Linked DNA regions of Homo sapiens. The protein of the gene in region 1 interacts with the protein of each later gene in a pairwise test. Each region holds a gene or a part of one and is shown in the gene's direction. Other genes may lie near its edges.

What was found. Proteins that work in one complex are often made in the same cells at the same time.
Region 2: the proteins of UBQLN1 (region 1) and DPYS interact in binary tests that used the Homo sapiens proteins (3 or more experiments, as listed by UniProt).
Region 3: the proteins of UBQLN1 (region 1) and ITPRIPL1 interact in binary tests that used the Homo sapiens proteins (3 or more experiments, as listed by UniProt).
Region 4: the proteins of UBQLN1 (region 1) and MRM1 interact in binary tests that used the Homo sapiens proteins (3 or more experiments, as listed by UniProt).

The regions. Positions count from the first base shown.
Region 1 is NC_000009.12:83,696,770-83,702,404, reverse strand, and holds part of UBQLN1 (ubiquilin-1), read left to right. Parts: intron 1-5,635. UniProt on the Homo sapiens protein: Plays an important role in the regulation of different protein degradation mechanisms and pathways including ubiquitin-proteasome system (UPS), autophagy and endoplasmic reticulum-associated protein degradation (ERAD) pathway.
Region 2 is NC_000008.11:104,425,556-104,430,122, reverse strand, and holds part of DPYS (dihydropyrimidinase), read left to right. Parts: exon of another isoform or gene 1-421; coding exon 422-578; exon of another isoform or gene 579-719; intron 720-1,398; exon of another isoform or gene 1,399-1,825; intron 1,826-2,001; coding exon 2,002-2,143; intron 2,144-4,567. UniProt on the Homo sapiens protein: Catalyzes the second step of the reductive pyrimidine degradation, the reversible hydrolytic ring opening of dihydropyrimidines. Can catalyze the ring opening of 5,6-dihydrouracil to N-carbamyl-alanine and of 5,6-dihydrothymine to N-carbamyl-amino isobutyrate.
Region 3 is NC_000002.12:96,322,847-96,328,116, forward strand, and holds the start of ITPRIPL1 (inositol 1,4,5-trisphosphate receptor-interacting protein-like 1), read left to right. Parts: upstream 1-2,470; 5' UTR 2,471-2,719; exon of another isoform or gene 2,720-2,900; 5' UTR 2,901-2,993; coding exon 2,994-3,003; intron 3,004-3,350; exon of another isoform or gene 3,351-3,761; coding exon of another isoform or gene 3,762-3,795; coding exon 3,796-5,270. UniProt on the Homo sapiens protein: Functions as a ligand of CD3E, inhibiting TCR-CD3 complex signaling to regulate T cell activation.
Region 4 is NC_000017.11:36,605,957-36,609,464, forward strand, and holds the end of MRM1 (rRNA methyltransferase 1, mitochondrial precursor), read left to right. Parts: intron 1-1,713; coding exon 1,714-1,846; intron 1,847-1,942; coding exon 1,943-2,062; intron 2,063-2,286; coding exon 2,287-2,459; 3' UTR 2,460-3,008; downstream 3,009-3,508. UniProt on the Homo sapiens protein: S-adenosyl-L-methionine-dependent 2'-O-ribose methyltransferase that catalyzes the formation of 2'-O-methylguanosine at position 1145 (Gm1145) in the 16S mitochondrial large subunit ribosomal RNA (mtLSU rRNA), a universally conserved modification in the peptidyl transferase domain of the mtLSU rRNA.

The DNA.
Region 1 (5,635 bases):
TTCTTATTTGCTTTGTTCTAATACTGGACAGCTGAAAAACTCGTTATTTAATGATTCTGATTAACAGAGATTGCTTAGCTTTTTTTAAGAAAGAGCGTAATTGAAGTGTAATTTGCCTACCATACAGTTCACCATTTTAAAGTCTGTAATTGATGTAATACATTCACAGGGTCGTGTAGTCAATTTTAGAACGTTTAGAACCCTCAAAAAGAAACGCTGTACCCTTTAGCAGTTGCCCTTCGTTTCTCCCTGGGCCCCCCAGCCTTAGGCAACTACTGATCTATTTTTTGTCTATAGATTTGCTTGTTCTGGGCGTTTGTTGTAAGTGGAATCATGTGGTCTTTTGTGATTGGCTTTCACTTAGCATAGTGTTTTCAAGGTTCATCCCTGTTGAAGCATGTGCCGGTACTTACTTCCTTTTTATTGCCGAATAACATTCCATTGTGTTGCCAACAGCATTCCACATTTTATTTTTCTATCACGTGGTGGACATTGGGTTGTTTCTACTTTCTGGCTATTGTGACTAATGCCTCTGAACACTCATGTATAAGTTTTTGTGGGGACATAACGTTTTCATTTTTCTTGGGTGTAGATCTTGGAGTGGAAATTGCTGGGTCAAAGCTCTATGTTGAGCTTTATGAGGAGCTGCCAAATTATTTTCTAAGGTGTCTGTACCATTTTACATTTCCACTAGCAATGCATGAGGATTCCGATAACCACATTCTCGGTAATACTTATTACTGTCTTTGTGATTATAGCCATCTTACTGGCTGTGAAATGGTATCTTACTGTGATTATTTTGCTTTTTATTTTCATTATTATTTTTGCTGGGGGCACTCTGAGGAAAACTGGACAGCCTGCTAGACAAATTTGCTTTTTGTTATCTGAGCAGTAGTTCTCACTGTGGTTTGGGGAGTCCCCATACCCTGTTAAGGGTACCATGAGATGAAACTATTTTCATAGTAATTCTGAGATGTTATTTTTATTTTTCAGTCTAATTTTCTCAAAACTGGGCAGTGCACTTGGCTAGAGTCTTTAAGGTGTGGGATATGACAACAGATGTGAAAATCCAGCTGTCTTCTATTACAAGACTAAAGTGATTTCCAAAAATTTAAAATAATGCCACTCTTATCACTGAGAAAATAGTTATTTTTCATAAGGATGTTATTTTTATTAATATATAATGTATTATTTTTAAATGAATTTATTTTTAAAGGTTATTCAGTTTTAATTTGTAATATTATAAATATCAACAGCTATAACCTAAACAAGCAAAACTCTTTGGAGTTCTGAAGTTGTAAAATGGTGTCCTGAGAGCAAAAATTTCTGTGGTGGCGTATTTTATAGATTACGTACTTAAAATATCGGGTAGTGGCTCCAATAAGTTGCCATTACCTCTTGCCTAGAAACTGCAGTAGCCTACTGGTCAGTTGCCTGACTTCTATAACTCTCCCACCAGCCATTCCAAGAGTGATCTCTGAAAAACGTTAATCAGAGCATGCCACCCTCTGTGTAAAGCTAATGGCTCCCTGTTGGTCTTAGAATATATAATGGAGTAGCGAGGCCCTGTGTAATACGGTTCCATGCCCTCTCCATTTTTTGCAGATGCCTTCTTTCTTTGCTTGCTTGGCTGACTACATTGACCTTCTAGTTCCCTGACCTGTTAATACTTTTTTTCCTGCCTGAGGACTTCTGTACAGTTTGTTCTTGCTACCTAGAATGCAAGAACACTCTTTGCCCATTCCTTTTCCATCTTTAAATCTTAATGCAAAGGTCAGTTTCTCCAGGTAGTATCTATTTCTGATTGTCCAGACTGGATTGGGATCCCCTGTTGGATTTCTCACAGTAGCCTGTTTTTGATAAGAATTCATCACAACTAAAAATTGTATATTTATGTGATTCCTTCTCTTTAGAGAGGGGCTGTGATTGTTCACCATTGTGTTACCAGAGCCTAGGGCTCAATAAATTATTTACAGATGAATCTAGTCCATTATGTACAATAATACATATTCAGTAATAACTACTTATTGTTGAACCTTTACTGAGTGTAGTATGTACATAATCTGGTAGCTCCCAGTCCTTTTGTGGAAGCTTCCTCTTAAGCTGTTCCCCCCAGGTCACCACTCTCCAGGCACAACTCTTGACTGCTTCATGATGTTCACTCTTGCTTCTCTGCCTGGAACATTACTCTTCTAGAACCACCTTTCTTAGCTGGAGATTCTCATCTGAACCACAGAGCACAGAAAGTGATATGAATAGCTATCCATTTCTTTTCAAAGATGGTTCATAATGAATATAATTTTAGATGTATAGGAGAGAAGTTAATTCATTACATAGTGAGTGGTTTGTTGGTAAATGCTGGTTTATCAACCCGTTCTTCAGGAAAAACACTGATTTGTAGTGTTTGCTGGATTTCCATGATGTAAATATTCTCACTGTGGCAGATTTCAAGATACCGTTATTAAACTGGCTCACAAAATTTATGAAAATTTAAGAGCCATTGCTTATAATGGGTGCCTTAGGGCAGAGGCCAGCAAACTGGTAGTCGAAATCTATTGTGCCCATTTGCTTATGTGTTATCTATAGCTCCTTTCAGAATAGACCATGTGGCTGGTAGAGCCAAAAATATTTACTGTCTAGCCCGTAACAGAAAGTTTGCTTACCCTGGTATTAGGGCTTCCTGTTAATATATCTTGTTCATCAAAACACTTCTCATTGGAAATTTTTACCATGACTTATTTTTTATAGAAATACAATGTGAGCTGGGCTCAGTGGTTCATGCTTGTAATCCCAACACTTTGCGGGGCCAAGGTGGCAGGATTGCTTGAGCACCATGGCTCAGTGATCATGGCTCACTGCAGCCCCCACCTCCTGGAGTTCGAGACCAGCCTGTCTACAAAAAAATAAAAATTTAGCTAGGTGTGGTGGCACACACCTGTAGTCCCAGCTAGTCCAGCAAGGTTGAGCCCAGGAGTTTGGAGGTTACACTGAGCTATGATTGCACCGCAGCATTCCAGCTGTGGTGACAGAATGAGACTTGGTCTCTTAAAAACAAAAAACAGTATGAGCCACATATGTAATTTTCCTATTAGCCACTTTAATCAAAAGGAAGGACTGAAGTCAATTTTTCAATAGTGGTGACTCACACATAACAAAATTTATCATGTTAACCATTTTTAAGGGTTCACTTCAGTGACATTAAGTACATTCACATTGTTGTACAATTGTTACCACCATCCGTTTCCAGAACTCATCTTGCAAAACTGAAACCCTGGACCGTTTAAACAGTAACTCCCCATTTTCCCCATTCCCCCACCTCTAGCAACCACCATTCTTCTTTCTGTCTCTGAATTTGACTACTCTAGGTATTTCATATAAGTGGAATAAGACAGTGTTTGGCCTTTTGTGATTAACTTATTTCCCTTAGTATAACGTCCACAAGGTTCATTTATGTTGTAGCATGTGTCAGAATTTACTTTTTTTTTTTTTTTTGAGACAGGTCTCACTTTGTCACCCAGGCTGGAGTGCAGTGGCACAATCATGGCTTGCTGCAGCCTCCACCTCCTGAAGTTCAAGTGATCCTCCTGCCTTAGCCCCCCAAGTAGCTGGGACTGCAAGCTCACATCACCATGCTTGGCTACTTTGTATTTTTTTGTAGAGACAGGGTTTCACCATGTTGCCCAGGTTGGTCTCAAACTCCTGAGCTCAAGCGATCTGCCCCCTTGGTCTCCCAAAATGCTAGGATTATACAAGTGTGAGCCACCGCACCCAGCCAGAATTTACTGTGTATGACTGAATAATATTCCATTATATGTATGTACCACATTTTAAAAATCCATTGATCTGTTGCTGGTCGCTTGGGTTGCTTCCACCTTTTGGCTATTGTAATTTTAATATGCTTTATTTAACCCAGTATGTCTAAAATATTTTAAGGTGCAATTGATATAAAGACTATAAAATATCTTGCATTTTGAAATACTAAGTCTTTGAAATATATTTTGTAATTTACACTTAAGCATACCTCAGTTTGAAGTAGCCACATTTCAGGTGCTTAATAGCCATATGTAGCTAGTGACTGCTGAATTAGCACAGCTAATAAAGCTTTCAGGATGTGCTTCCACCTGCCTTTTCTCCTGTTTTCATTGCATTTCAGCCAGTTTGTATTGTCTCTTCCCCTACCCTCAAATATCACTGGCTCTTTCTTCCCCTTTTTGAACCTTTGCAAATGCTGTTAATGACAATGACATAATGGCCAATATTTATTGCAGGCATGATTTATAAGGCATGATGCATTATATTTTTTTAAAATGTCACATAACTTTATGATGAAAGCACTATTATTATCCTTTTTTTAAAAAATGAAGATGCTGGCCAGGCATGGTGGCTCATGCTGCTAATCCCGGCACTCTGGGAGGCCGAGGCGGGTGGATCACATGAGGTCAGGAGTTTGAGACCAGCCTGACCAACATGGAGAAACCCCGTCTCTACTAAAGATACAAGATTTGCCAGGTGTGGTGGTGCATGCCTGTAATCCCCAGCTACTCGGAAGGCTGAGGCGGGAGAATCGCTTGAACCTGGGAGGTGGAGGTTGCAGTGAGCTGAATCGTGCCATCGCACTCCAGCCTGTGGGATAAGAGTGAGACTTCGTCTCAAAAAAAAAAAAAAAAAAAAGGGTACAAAAAATAGCCGCGTGTGGTGGTGCATGCCTGTAGTCCCAGCTACTTGGGAAGCTGAGGTGGAAGAATCTCTTGAATCTGCGAGGCAGAGGTTGCAGTGAGCTGAGATCTTGCCACTGCAGTCCAGCCTGGGCGACAGAGGGAAACTGTCTTTTTTTTTTTTTTTTTTTTTTTTTTGAGACAGTGTCTTGCACTGTTGCCCCGGCTGGAGTGCAGTGGTGCAATCTCAGCTCACTGCAACCTCCGCCCCCTGGGTTCACACAATTCTCTTGCCTCAGCCTCCTGAGTAGCTGGGATTACAGGTGCACACCACCACACCCAGCTAATTTTTTGTATTTTTAGTAGAGACGGGGTTTCATTATGTTGGCCAGACTGGTCTTGGACTCCTGACCTCATGATTCGCCTGCCTTTGCCTCCCAAAGTGCTGGAATTACAGGCGTGAGCCACCGCGCCTGGCCTATGTCTTAAAAAAAAAAAAAAAAACCAGAAGATACTGAGACTCATATTAATAATGTGATCAAATTCATACACATATTAAGTAGTAGACTGTAGATTCAAACCCAGTACAAACTTGGGAGGCCTCACCGATCCACTGCCCCAAACTGCCTTGACTTTCCTTTGACTGGCTTTTCAGTCTTTAAAGTTCATTGAATAGCTAGGTGTGGTGGTGCAAGCCTGTAGTCCCAGCTAATTGGGAGGCTGAGGTGGGAGAATTACTTGAGCCCAAGAGTTCCACGCCAGCCTGGGCAACATAGCAATACTCTGTATCTTTTTTTAAGAAGTTTATTTAAATATTAGTTCATCAGAGGGTAATTGGACTCATCAGTCTATGTCAGATCATTGATTATAATCTCTGATAATATTTTGTGATTATATGGATTGTCTCCTTCACCCAGCCCCCCTGCCCCCGAGTACTGTAAGAACTTCAGGGGCAGGGACTGTTTTGCTTACTTTCTAAT
Region 2 (4,567 bases), on another chromosome or scaffold:
TCAAATTCTACCTTCTCCACACCACATAGACTGTATGTAATGTAAATGTAGAGAAATTATTACTCCATAGCTTTATTTTCATCTTTTTATGGAGATAACAATAGCATTTATCTGGTAGGGTTTTGGAGAAGGTTTCATTAGAATGGCTCTTGTACCAGCCAGCTTTTTCTAGGTTATATGGCCATAAAAATGGATCTAAAATATGAATAGCTTATACTTACAGAAGTTTATTTCTCATTCATATTTATGTTCATCATGGATTTTTAAATCCTGTCCACAAAAGTAAATTATAGTTTGGGATTCTGCTAAACTGTAGATATTACCCTCTGCTAGGGGAGAAAAGATTAATATTTATGTGTTTGTCATATGGTCCTCTTAAGAATAAAATTAAAGTGATGAATGCTTCTTTTAATCTTTCCAGGGAAGGTGGTCTATGGTGAACCCATAGCAGCCAGTCTTGGCACAGATGGCACTCACTACTGGAATAAAGAATGGCACCATGCAGCCCACCATGTCATGGGTCCACCTTTGCGACCAGACCCCTCAACACCCGACTTCCTCATGAATCTGTTGGCTAAGTAATCATTTTGCAGATGACTGGGAAGTGTATTGCCAAAAGAAGGTTTGGGTAGAAGGGAGCTCGTCCTCCCATCTGGATCCTCCACTAACCTCCCAGTATTCTCTTCTACTTGACCTGTCAGGTCCTGGGTACCCCTCACCTGCAGAGCAAAAAACATTGACTTAATTATGCTGTGATATGTTGTCAAAGCCTTTCCTAGACTCTCAGAAATCAGATCGTTTTCACTGAAACTTTACTCTTTTCTGACTTTTTTCATCTCTTGTTGCCCAAACCCAGGGCTCTTCATTACACCTTACTTTTTATCAGAATATTGTTGAATTTTTTTCTATGCTGATATAATATGGGAACTAGGTTAACCCTGTTACTTTCTGGGAACATATGATCATTTTTCTTGAAAATTCTACCATTCTTGGGCCAGATGCAGTGGCTCATGCTTGTAATCCCAGCACTTTGGGAGGCTGAGGTGGGCGGATCACATGAGGCCAGGAGTTTGAGACAAGCCTGGTGAACATGGCAAATCCCCATCTCTACTAAAAATACAAAAATTGGCTGGGCGTGGTGGCTTATGCCTGTAATCCCAGTTACTCGGGAGGCTGAGGCACGAGAATCACTTGAACCCAGGAGGCAGAGGTTGCAGTGAGCAGAGATAGTGCCACTGCACTCCAACCTGAGTGACAGAGCAAGACTCTGTCTCGAAAAAAAAAAGAAAAGAGAAAAGAAAATTCTATCCTTCATGGACATCCCGACACTCCCCATTCACAGATACTCAGTCTCAAGCTAAGAGTTTTTCATGACAGACCGTACAAGAGTTCACTTACCCATTCTTTTCAGCTTCCTTCCTCCTTCATGATTCAGCATCCCCAAGATTACTCACAAGTCAAAGCAGGATTCCTGTCCCTGGTAATATCAGCATCGCCAGCCAGTCTCACCCTCTGTTCATCCCAGTGTGGCCGTGTGGCTAGGGACTGCCCCGGAGGGCCTGCCCTCCATTCATGAGGATCACCATGGTGATGTCTTTGTGGATGCAGCATTCTGCTCACAAGGAGTTTTCTCTCACATATTTGCTGGTGATTCTGAAGTTATCTTCATCAAGTACATGTGACTATTCATTTCTAGATGAGAAATGGAGTCTCGGACAAGCTCATATCACAGAGCTAGTTAAGTGATGGAGCTGAGCTTAGAACTCAGGTTTCCTAACCCATCTTGGATCATGCTTCCGATCAGTGTGTCCTCTGAAAGTGCTTCCTAGAATAGAGACAGGAGAGGGATGAAATATGTTCTTGAAAAAACTGCTCATTCTCCATTGGATTTTTCTGACTTCAATTGAGAAGGGAGCCAGGAGATTAGGAAAGGTTATGGCAGTTTCCTCCTAACATATTCTGTATACTCACCCCATCACTCTCGTGTTTTTTCTTTTACAGTGATGATCTAACCACAACAGGGACTGATAACTGCACTTTCAACACCTGCCAGAAAGCTCTTGGGAAGGATGATTTTACCAAGATCCCCAATGGGGTGAATGGTGTTGAAGATCGGATGTCCGTAATATGGGAAAAAGGCGTGGTGGGTTTCACAGGTTCCAGCCTTGCTTTGCCTAGTTCTTCAGCCAGGATCCTGCCCATTTGAGGACCAGAGTGGCACAAATTTTCATAGAGAAGCTTTTTGATTGTTTTTACTAGGGAGGATACTAGGAATGCAATACTATCACCTCGACCACCATTCCATCCCTCAGTATAGCATCAGCAAAGAAATAATCTTCTCTGCATAGTTTATTTTAGTTTAGACGATGCATCGCACTATTTTGCGGAGACATTAGAGGATGAATTAAGATTGCATACAAAGAGGGTTATTCTTCAATTCTCTGAAATGGCATAGCCCTTCTGCTTGATTTCTCATGCTCTTGAATTCCAGTGCGTCATGTGTCATTGGCACGAATGCTTGAAATGATAAAAAATACACGAAGGGGCAGGGTGCAGTGGCTCACACCTGTAATCCCAGCACTTTGGGAGGCCAAGGCAGGTGGATCACTTGAGGTCAGGAGTTCAAGACCAACCTGGCTAACATGGTGAAACCCCATCTCTACTAAAAATACAAAAGTTAGCCGGGCATGGTGGCACGTGGCTGTAATCCCAGCTACTCAGGAGGCTGAGGCAGGAGAATTGCTTGAACTTGTGAGGCAGAGGTTGTGGTGAGTCAAGATGGCACCATTGCACTCTAGCCTGGGGCAACACAGTGAGACTCCATCACAAAAAAAAAAAAATACACGAAGCGTATTCGTTATGCTCATACCTCCTTTCCATGAAATCTTTGTTGATGTCAGTTCTTTTTTTTTTTTTTTTTTTGAGACGGAGTCTCACTCTGTTGCCCGGACTGGAGTGCAGTGGTGCAATCTTGGCTCACTGCAACCTCCACCTCCTGGGTTCAAGTGATTCTCCTGCCTCAGCCTCCCAAGTAGCTGGGATTACAGATGTGCACCACCATGACTGGCAAATTTTTGTATTTTTAATAGAGAGGGGGTTTCACCATGTTGGCCAGGCTGGTTTCAAACTCCTGACCTCAGGTGATCCACCCGCCTTCGCCTCCCGAAGTGTTGGGATTGACAGGCGTGAGCCACCGTGCCCAGCCTGATGTCACTTCTTAAAGAATCCTTGGATATCATGTTTTTAAAATTGCTATATGAAGTCACAAAAGTAATAATTTAAAGTCTGGAAAAAAATTTAAATGTCCATGACTACAAAACTTCTCCCTGAGGACGGAGAAGAATCACATGACTAAATGTCTATGTGTTAACTTGTCCAGCCAGTTGACATGTGGAGCTGTGAAGACTAGCAGAGGGGACTTGCCTGGTTAGACTTCTGGTCCCCAGTGTCATGCCCTTTTCACCCATCTCCTAGGATGCCTCCCTCAAATGACACATTAATTATATCTCACACTTCAGAATCCTCTTCAATTGCTTTTACCCTACACATACCACCTACTTCTAACTCTAATGAATTATTCACCAAGTCTTGTCAATTTTGTTTCCAAAGGGCCTCCTTATTTCTTTCTTCGTTGCTACCATTCTAGTTGGAGGCTCATATTTTGTTTGGACCTTTGCAGTAATCTCACAGCTGGTCCCCATCTCCAGAGTCTCACTTGCTACAGTGTATTCTTTACTCCAGTACAAGAACTCTTGTTCTGTACTGAGAACAGCTGACAATGCTTTTATTATTATTTTTACAATATTATAGAGGGAGGATAGGTTTTGAATGGGAGTTCTCATTTAGAAATAAAGTTCTGTTTGTGCTATTGTTCTCTCAAAAACCCTTTACTTGCCTCCATTACTTATTGGATGATAGTTGAATCATTAACTTACAATTAGATCTTCAAAACATCTCTATAGCCTCATCTTCTGCTGATTATTTTCCTCACCCCCCTTCCTCCACCCTAACTCTAACCATCCCAGATGACTTCTCTTCACTTAGATTTTCTTGATAAAAGTTCAAGCTTCCACTTGAACTTCTGTTTTACAATGAATATCTTTATTATAGCAGATTTTCATAATCTATATAGTTCCCTGGTATATAAATGGCTTTACAGTGACTGAATAGTTCTTAATAATATATAGAAAACCATGTCATTTTATGAAACATTAATATGGTTTACTTATGGGAATATTACTTTCAGGGCATGGTTCTTAGTCATTTTTAAGGCAAGCATTGTTTGATAATTAAATAAACCTTTAGTACCCTCTTACCATATAAATAGGGATAAACCCCTAACACTTTCCAATTTTATTTTAGAGGAGCCACACCCCTCTGAATTCTGTCCACATTAAAATCTCTTGCAATAGACTATCCATAATTGTTGGTTCATGTAAAACTTCAATTGCATAAAATTGAACCTCTTGAGTTGTTTTTTTATCTTTTCAAAAGGATTGCATCTGGGTGTGGTGGCTTATGCCTGTAATCCTAACACTTTGGGGAGGCTAAGGCAGGTGGATTGCCT
Region 3 (5,270 bases), on another chromosome or scaffold:
AGATGCTGGTGAAAATGGGGAGAAAAGGGAACTCTGATATGCTGTTGGGTAAACTAGCACAGCTGCTATGGAGAATAACATGGAGGTTCCTCAGAAAACTACAAGTAGAACTACTCACATGATCTAGCAATCCCATTACTTAAAATCTATCCAAAGGAAAGGAAATCATTATATCAAAGAGAAATCTGCACCCTCATGTTTATAGCTGCACTATTCAGAATAGCCAATATGGAATTGACCTATGTGTCCAACAATAGATGAATGAATAAGGAAAACGTGGTATATGTACACAATGGAATGCTATTTGGCCATAAAAAAAAATGAAATCCTGTCATTTGCAGCAACTTGGATGGAATTGGAGGATATTAAGTGAAATAAGCCAGGCACAGAAAGATAAACACCACATGTTCTCAGTCACATGTGGAACCTAGAAAAAGTTGATGTAATAGAAGTAAAAGGTAGAACAGAGGATGCTAGAGGCTGGGAAGGGGAGGGGAAGGTGGTGATAGGGAGGGATTTGTTAAAGGATTCAAGATTATAGCCAGATGGGAGGACTAAGTACTAGGGTTTCACACCACTGTAGGTTGACTACAGTTAACAATAATAGACCAGGCATGGTGGCTCATGCCTGTAATCCCAGCACTTTGGGAGGCCAAGGTGGGCAGATTGCTTGAGCTCAGGAGCTCGAGAACATGGTGAAACCCCCACTCTACTAAAATACAAAAAAATTGCCGGGCTTGGTGGTGTGTGCCTGTAATCCCAGCTATTTGGGAGGCTGAGGCAGGAAAACTGCTTGACCCAGGAGGTGGAGGTTGCAGTGAGCTGAGATGGTGCCACTGCACTCCAGCCTGGGTGACAGAGCAAGACTCCGTCACACACACACACAAAATAATAATAGTAATAATATATAGTTTCAAATAGCTAGAGGGAGGATTGAACCTTCCCAACACAAAGAAATGATAAATGTTTGAGATGATGGATATGCTAATTACCCTAATCTGAAATTATACATTGTATGTATGAAACATGACTGTGCACCCTATGAATATGTACAATTATTATTTGTTAATTAAAATAATACAACTTTAAAACACATGGTCTTAAACATTATCGTTTTTGCACACTCTGAAGCATATATTTTGCATCCTGACATCATGTCATAAGTGAAAAGATAAGAGACTTTCATTATTACTGCTCCAAATGCATGAATGCTCAATAACCTGTGATCTATTTTTCATAATTCACATTTATAAAAAGTAACTTTGGAACTTCAGTCATTGTCAGCTAGCAGACAGTTTTTCCTGCTCCACAATTAAATAAGTCAGTATTCTTGGAAGTATTGTACAAGTTGTTTGGGAGCTCCCTACACATTGCCACTGGATAAGAAGACCTGAAACCCAGCCATGTGTGATGGCTTACACATATAATCCCAGCATTTTGGGAGGCCGAGGCGGGCAGATCACCTGAGGTCAGGAGTTCGAGACCAGCATGGCCAACATGGTGAAACCCCGTCTTTACTAAAAATACAAAAATTAGCTGGACATGGTGGCATACACCTGTGGTCCCAGCTACTCAGTAGGCTGAGGCAGGAGAATCACTGGAACCTGGGGCGGGTAGGCTGCAGTGAGCCAAGATGGTGCCACTACACTCCAGCCTGGGTGACAGAGCGAAACTCTTTCTCAAAAACAAACAAACAAATAAAAACCCTGAAACTTGTCTTTCAGCAGAGGGATTTTAGTGAGTTAGTATCAAGGGGTCATCACTTCCTTTTCTTCTTGGATAGCTGACACAAGACAGGAAGACTAAGGGCTCTTTCTGATATCTGAAGATCCCTTTCAGGAAACCCATTCTGTTGTGTTTCTTAAGGTGTGATAAAGCTTGTCCAGCCTCCACACCGTATAAAGTTCTCCTTTATACACCCATGTATCAGCAGAGCTGCCCTGTAGGTAGGATTCTTACTCCCACGTGGCCAGTGAGTAGCAAGCAAGGCCCCAAGTAAGGTCTTTGGGTGCTGTCTGTTCTTTCATGAGAGTCACTTTGATATGAGAAAGGGGTTGGGGAAAGATGCCTGAGTCTGGGCGTGGGCTGGGAGGGAAGCACATTTAGGGTGCTGAAACCACATCTTATTTCGTGTGCCATTTTGCTCAGGGCCAGCCCGAAGTGAGAATGGCTTTTCTCGGTCAATTCCTAGTTTTGCCACCATCATCCTTACACCCGAATCCTAGTAAGTCTGTTCTCCACTGAACTGAGCTGAGTGCAGCTGACAGCAGGCACGGCGGTGCCCCATTTGCCACCCCAGGGAGGCCGAGCAGCGGAGAGTGTGTGGCCACGGCCCCTCCACTCTCCCAGCAAACCCACGGGGGCCTCGGTGCGGACAGAGACCCGGTGTGGGGAGGCCGCTGCCCCTGCACGCTGGGCCACGGGGGTTTGGGCGGGGAGGAGCTTGTACTGGGTGGGCGGGGAGGAGCCCGGACGGCGGGAGCGGCTGCGGCGCGCGGGCGCCCTCGGAGCCGCGTGCTGGGGGTCGTAGGGGCCCACCGCGCTCAGCCAGACGTTCAGACGCTCGGACAAGCATGGTCTATAACCCAGGAAAGGGGAGCAGGGCCACTCCCGCGGGCGGCCCCAGCGATGAACCGGACGCCCCCACCCTGCCGGGAAAAAAGCAGTGGCGGTCAGGCCGCGCTGTCTCTTTAAGATCGTGTTCCTACTAACACTGACGGTGAGTAACCTGGCCCTGGGTCCCGGGAGACATCCCGAGGTAGGATGGGCCCTTGGCCTCCTACGGATAGGCGGGTGAGAGTACAAATCTCTGGGCGTGGAATTTGGGGAAGTTATGAATGGGGGGAGGGTCGGGTTCCGATTTGAGCCAAAGCCCCCAGGTACCTTGTACATTTTAACAGGGCTCCTAGAGAGGGCGGGGAGACGAAGCAAGGCCAAGTTCCAAAGGGAGGATAGGCCCAGCTGGCTTCAGCGTCCACACGGCATAGTCCTTCATGAATGTTGGTAAGCGCGGTAGCTTGTGAATTAGGGTGAGTGGCAGAAGCTCGGGCTTCACGGGTGGGTGGGGAGGCAGTGGAACTGACCACTGCCGGCTGTCAGGTAGGCCTTGGGCACCTGGTTCTGCAGACAGTTTTCTGAACTAAGAAGTGAAGCTAGCCTGCCCACACACGGGGTATCCACTAGCCCCTTAGGAGCAGAGAGGGCACCGTAGCAAGCAGCTGGCGGCACTGTGCCTCTCTTGCGCTCCCTGGGCAGAGAGGGAGAGGCTGAGTGATGAGGCTCACTTCATACTGGGTGAGCAGAATGAAGACTGTGAAGTCACAGAGGAAGTGGAATGCTACAACTGGCTGCCGGGGCAGAGGAAAGGTGTCACCCAGGCAGGTTCAGGGCTTTCTGGCTATAAAAGGGAGCCTCTGGGATCAGCAGGTCATATCTGGTGCCCATGGTTGACTGAGGAGTCGGGTGAGGCCACCCTACCACAAGGGTCCCCCTCCCCATCCTACACAGGAATGAAAACAGTCCCATGTACACTTTCTGGAAGCCTAAATACCACCCACACCATGTGGAAGGAAAGCAGGAGAGAGACTGAGTGGCACATCCTTTCGCCCTCTTTTCTCTCGAACCTCCTCCCAGGCCGACCACCCTTGCTGTGTCCAAGCCAAGCTCTGTGGGCTTTCTGTTCCTCCTGAGTAGCTGATTTTCAGAATTTGGGGTACCAGGGCTCTGGGGAATGTGAGCTAGAGAGCAGATAAGTCTGGAAGATGACCACTGACTCCTACTCTCCTACTTCTCCAGATGCAGAGGCCTCCATGGCTGTGATAAGCCTGCTGTTCTTGGCAGTGATGTATGTTGTTCACCACCCTCTGATGGTCAGTGATCGGATGGACCTGGACACATTAGCCAGGAGTCGGCAGCTGGAGAAGCGAATGAGTGAGGAGATGCGCCTGCTAGAGATGGAGTTTGAAGAGAGAAAGCGAGCCGCTGAGCAGAGGCAGAAGGCAGAGAACTTCTGGACAGGAGACACATCCAGTGACCAGTTAGTGCTGGGGAAGAAAGACATGGGGTGGCCGTTCCAGGCCGATGGCCAGGAAGGGCCTCTGGGCTGGATGCTGGGAAACCTGTGGAACACTGGCCTCTTTTGCCTTTTTCTCGTCTTTGAGCTCCTGCGACAGAACATGCAGCATGAACCGGCCTTTGATTCCAGCAGTGAGGAGGAGGAGGAGGAAGTCCGTGTTGTCCCTGTCACCTCTTACAACTGGCTTACTGACTTCCCCTCCCAGGAGGCCCTGGACTCCTTTTACAAACACTATGTCCAAAATGCCATCCGTGACCTGCCCTGCACCTGTGAGTTTGTGGAGAGTTTTGTGGATGATCTCATTGAGGCCTGTCGGGTGCTCAGCCGCCAAGAGGCTCACCCACAATTGGAAGACTGCCTGGGCATCGGGGCTGCCTTTGAGAAATGGGGAACCCTCCATGAGACCCAGAAATTTGATATCCTGGTGCCCATTGTCCCCCCACAGGGCACCATGTTTGTCCTGGAGATGAGGGACCCAGCCCTGGGCCGCCGCTGTGGCTGTGTGCTGGTGGAGTCAGAATGTGTGTGCAAGCGTGAGAAACTCCTAGGGGACGTGCTGTGCCTGGTGCACCACCACAGGGACCCCTCGGCAGTCTTGGGGAAGTGTAGTAGCTCCATCAAGGCAGCTCTCTGCACCGGCTTCCACCTAGACGTGTGCAAGACTGTGCAGTGGTTCCGGAACATGATGGGCAATGCCTGGGCCCTTGTGGCCCACAAGTATGACTTTAAACTCAGTCTCCCACCGTCTACCACCTCCTGCAAGCTCCGGCTGGACTATCGCTCAGGCCGCTTTCTCTCAATCCACTTGGTCCTGGGGGTGCAACGAGAAGACACCTTGGTCTACCTGGTGAGTCAGGCTCCTGACCAGGAGCAGCTCACCAGTGTGGACTGGCCTGAGTCCTTTGTGGCCTGTGAGCACCTGTTCCTGAAGCTGGTGGGGCGCTTTGCCCCCGAGAACACCTGTCACCTCAAGTGCCTCCAGATCATTTTAAGTCTCCGGCAGCATCAGAGCTTACCCCATGGAGCATCCCGCCCCATCCTCACTTCTTACCATTTTAAAACAGCTCTCATGCACCTCTTGCTACGGCTGCCCCTCACGGACTGGGCCCACAACATGCTCTCTCAGCGGCTCCAGGACATTCTCTGGTTCTTGGGCCGTGGCCTCCAGCAAAGGTCCCTCCATCATTTCCTCATT
Region 4 (3,508 bases), on another chromosome or scaffold:
TCAAAACCTTTCAAAGCCTCTGTACCGCTCAGATTCAAAGGCAGAGTCCTTCCAGTAGCCCTGGAGACCATACCTCATGTGGCTCTTGTTCCTTCTTCTGTCTTGACGCCTCTCTTCCCACTGGCCACCTTACTGTTCTCAAACATGCCAGGGAGGCACCTGCCTCTGTGCTTGCTGATCTCTCTGCCTAGAATGTTCTTGCCCCAGATGTCTGCACGGTGCTCCTCCTTCTCCTTCAGGTCTGCACTCAAATGTCACCTCAGTGAGTCCATCCCCACCTGCCCTTCCACAAGGCTGGGATTTTGGTCTGTTTTGTTTTGTTCAGTGCCCTGTCCTCAGTGCCTAGAACAGAGCCCATGCTAGGTGCTTAATAACTATTGACTAATTGACTGGATCAGCAGATAAATGAATGTATGGGCAAGGCTGGGCTCTTCCTTGGCCAGGGCTCTGATGGATAATTTTTTTTTTTTTTTTTGAGATGGGGGTCTCACTCTGTCACCCAAGCAGGAGTGCAGTGGCGCAATCTTAGCTCGCTGCAATGTCTGCCTCCTGGTCTCAAGAGATCCTCGTGTCTCCTGAGTAGCTGGGATTACAGGCTGATTTTTGTATTTTTAGTAGAGACAGAGTTTCACCATGATGCTCAGGCTAGTCTTTTTTTTTTTTTTGAGACAGAGTGGAGTCTCGCTTTGTTGCCCAGGCTGGAGGCAGTGGTGTGCTCTCAGCTCACTGCAACCTCCGCCTCCCGGGTTCAAGCGATTCTCCTCCCTCAGACTCCCAAATAGCTGGGACTACAGGCATGTGCCACCACACCCAGCTAATTTTTTGTGTGTTTTTAGTAGAGACGGAGTTTCACCATGTTAGCCAGGGTGGTCTCAAACTCCTGACCTCAGGTGATCCGCCCGCCTCGGCCTCCCAAAGTGCTGGGATTACAGGCGTGAGCTACTGCGCCTGGTTTTTTGTTTTTTTTTTTAATTTGAGATGGAGTTTCACTCTTGCTGCCCAGGCTGGAGTACAATGGCGCAATCTCGGTTGACTGCAGCCTCTGCCTCCCGAGTTCAAGCGATTCTCCTGCCTCAGCCTCCTGAGTAGCTGGGATTACAGGCATGCACCACCATGCCCGGCTAATTTTGTATTTTTAGTAGAGACGGGGTTTCTCCATGTTGTTCAGACTGGTCTCGAACTCCCAACCTCAGGTGATCCCCCTGCCTTGGCCTCCCAAAGTGCTGGGGATTACAGGCGTGAGCCACCGTGCCTGGGCCAGGCTAGTTTTGAACTCCTGACCTCAGGTAATCTGCCTGCTTCAGCCTCCCAAAGTGCTGGAATTACAGGCTTGAGCCACTGCATACAGCCTCTGATGAAGATTTGATGAATTAGAATAGGAGAGGCAGGCATGGTGGCTGACGCTTGTAATCCTAGCACTCTGGGAGGCCAAGGTGGGAGGATCGCTTGAAGCCAGGAGTTCCAGACCAACCAGGGCAACATGGCAAAACCTCATCTCAAAAAAAAAAATGCAAAAACTAGCCGGGTGGGGTGGCGAGTGCCTGTAGTCCCAGCTACTTGGGAGGCTGAGGTGGGAGGATCACCAGAACCCAGGCGGTTGAGGCTGCGGTGAGCTGTGATCGTGCCACTGCACTCCAGCCTGAGCGAGAGTAAGACCCTATCTCAAAATTAAAATAAAAAAAGAATTAGAACATATCTTCTTCCCCCTTTCAGACCAAAGCCCAGCAGGGCTGGCTCGTGGCCGGCACGGTGGGCTGCCCAAGCACAGAGGATCCCCAGTCCTCCGAGATCCCCATCATGAGTTGCTTGGAGTTCCTCTGGGAACGGCCTACTCTCCTTGTGCTGGGTAGGTGGATGTCCCTGCGTTTGTGCCCAGATTACATTTCCCGAGCAACTGGGTGTCCAGCTGGGCAACCCTAACCCTCAGCCCCACGCCCTGCAGGGAATGAGGGCTCAGGTCTATCCCAGGAGGTGCAGGCCTCCTGCCAGCTTCTCCTCACCATCCTGCCCCGGCGCCAGCTGCCTCCTGGACTTGAGTCCTTGAACGTCTCTGTGGCTGCAGGTGAGTCTACTCCCCTTTCCCTTTCCTCTATCCCTCTAATCACGCAGGTGGGATTTGATGCCCTCTAATCCCATTTGCTGGCTGTTTGTGTGCCTCAGTTGCTTTATGTACAAAATGGGGAAATTACATCCCGTTGATGAGATGAGGGGCTGCCTGAATGTCTAGGTCTCTAAACATCATCCTTCTCCTCCGTCCTCTCTTCCCTTGTCCTTGTGTCTGTGCAGGAATTCTTCTTCACTCCATTTGCAGCCAGAGGAAGGGTTTCCCCACAGAGGGGGAGAGAAGGCAGCTTCTCCAAGACCCCCAAGAACCCTCAGCCAGGTCTGAAGGGCTCAGCATGGCTCAGCACCCAGGGCTGTCTTCAGGCCCAGAGAAAGAGAGGCAAAATGAGGGCTGACGTGGACTGTCCACAGTGTTCATGTGCTGGAGTCAGGGACGGCCGCACCTGCCTCCGCCGGCTCCAGTGTGCGGGGAGCCTCTGCCTGAGTGTGCACCAGGCCCATGTTTATTGACCACAGTCTGGGGGGGGGGGAAGGGGACTGCGGTGGACACCAGAGGAAGCTGTTTCCTGTTGTGATGTTGGACCTGTAGTAGGACATGGTGATTTGTTAATTTCCATGGGAAGCCATGATGGCCTAGCATGGAGGGAATCTGTTCCCAGGCCCTGCCTGGAAGTTGAGGGAAAGTTTAGACATCTGCAGAGAGGCAGGCAGCCCAGCCCAGGGGACCCGTTCCTCTTGAACCAGTCATTGCCTGTGGCAAATGTGTGTATGAGAATGTGGGGGGTGGAGGGCGGGGCCCTGATGTGGAGTAGACAGTGCGCACCTCAGGCCCACACACGGCCCCGCCCTGGGGCCTTGAGCGCAGGCCTCATCTTTCTGTGCCGCGGGACTCCGCACCTACCTCACAGGGTTGTTGTGAGGCTCAAATAAAACATCACTCAGCACGTGGGAGATTCTGGCCAATTCCTCCGTTAGGTGGCAGCCTCGCTCTTCGGTCCAGTCTTCAGGCAGCTTCCACAGCCTCCTTGCGGGGAGACTCCTGGCTGCAGCCCCATGAGAGGCGACGGGAAATTAGCAAACACCTCCCACCCCACGGGGGCCCCCCACGGGTGACTGAGTCAGTTCCCTTCAAGGGGAGGAACTGGGAGCAGGCTTGCCGTTGATTGTACAACCGAGACAGATTTGGCACTCCTCCCCTCGGGTCCCAGGAAAGCAGCAGGAGCCAGCAGTGTGAGGAGCATAGAAGTGTTTCTGTCCTGGTGGCACATTGGAACCACCTGGCATGCTTTAAAAAACCCAACACTGACACCAGAGAGTCTGACATGATGGGTGTGGCGCCACCTGGCATCCGGCTTTCGAAAGCGCCACCATTGGTCTAATGTGCAGCCAAGGCTGAGAATCACCACTAGGGCAGGTGGACTCAAATTCCACACCCTTGACATTT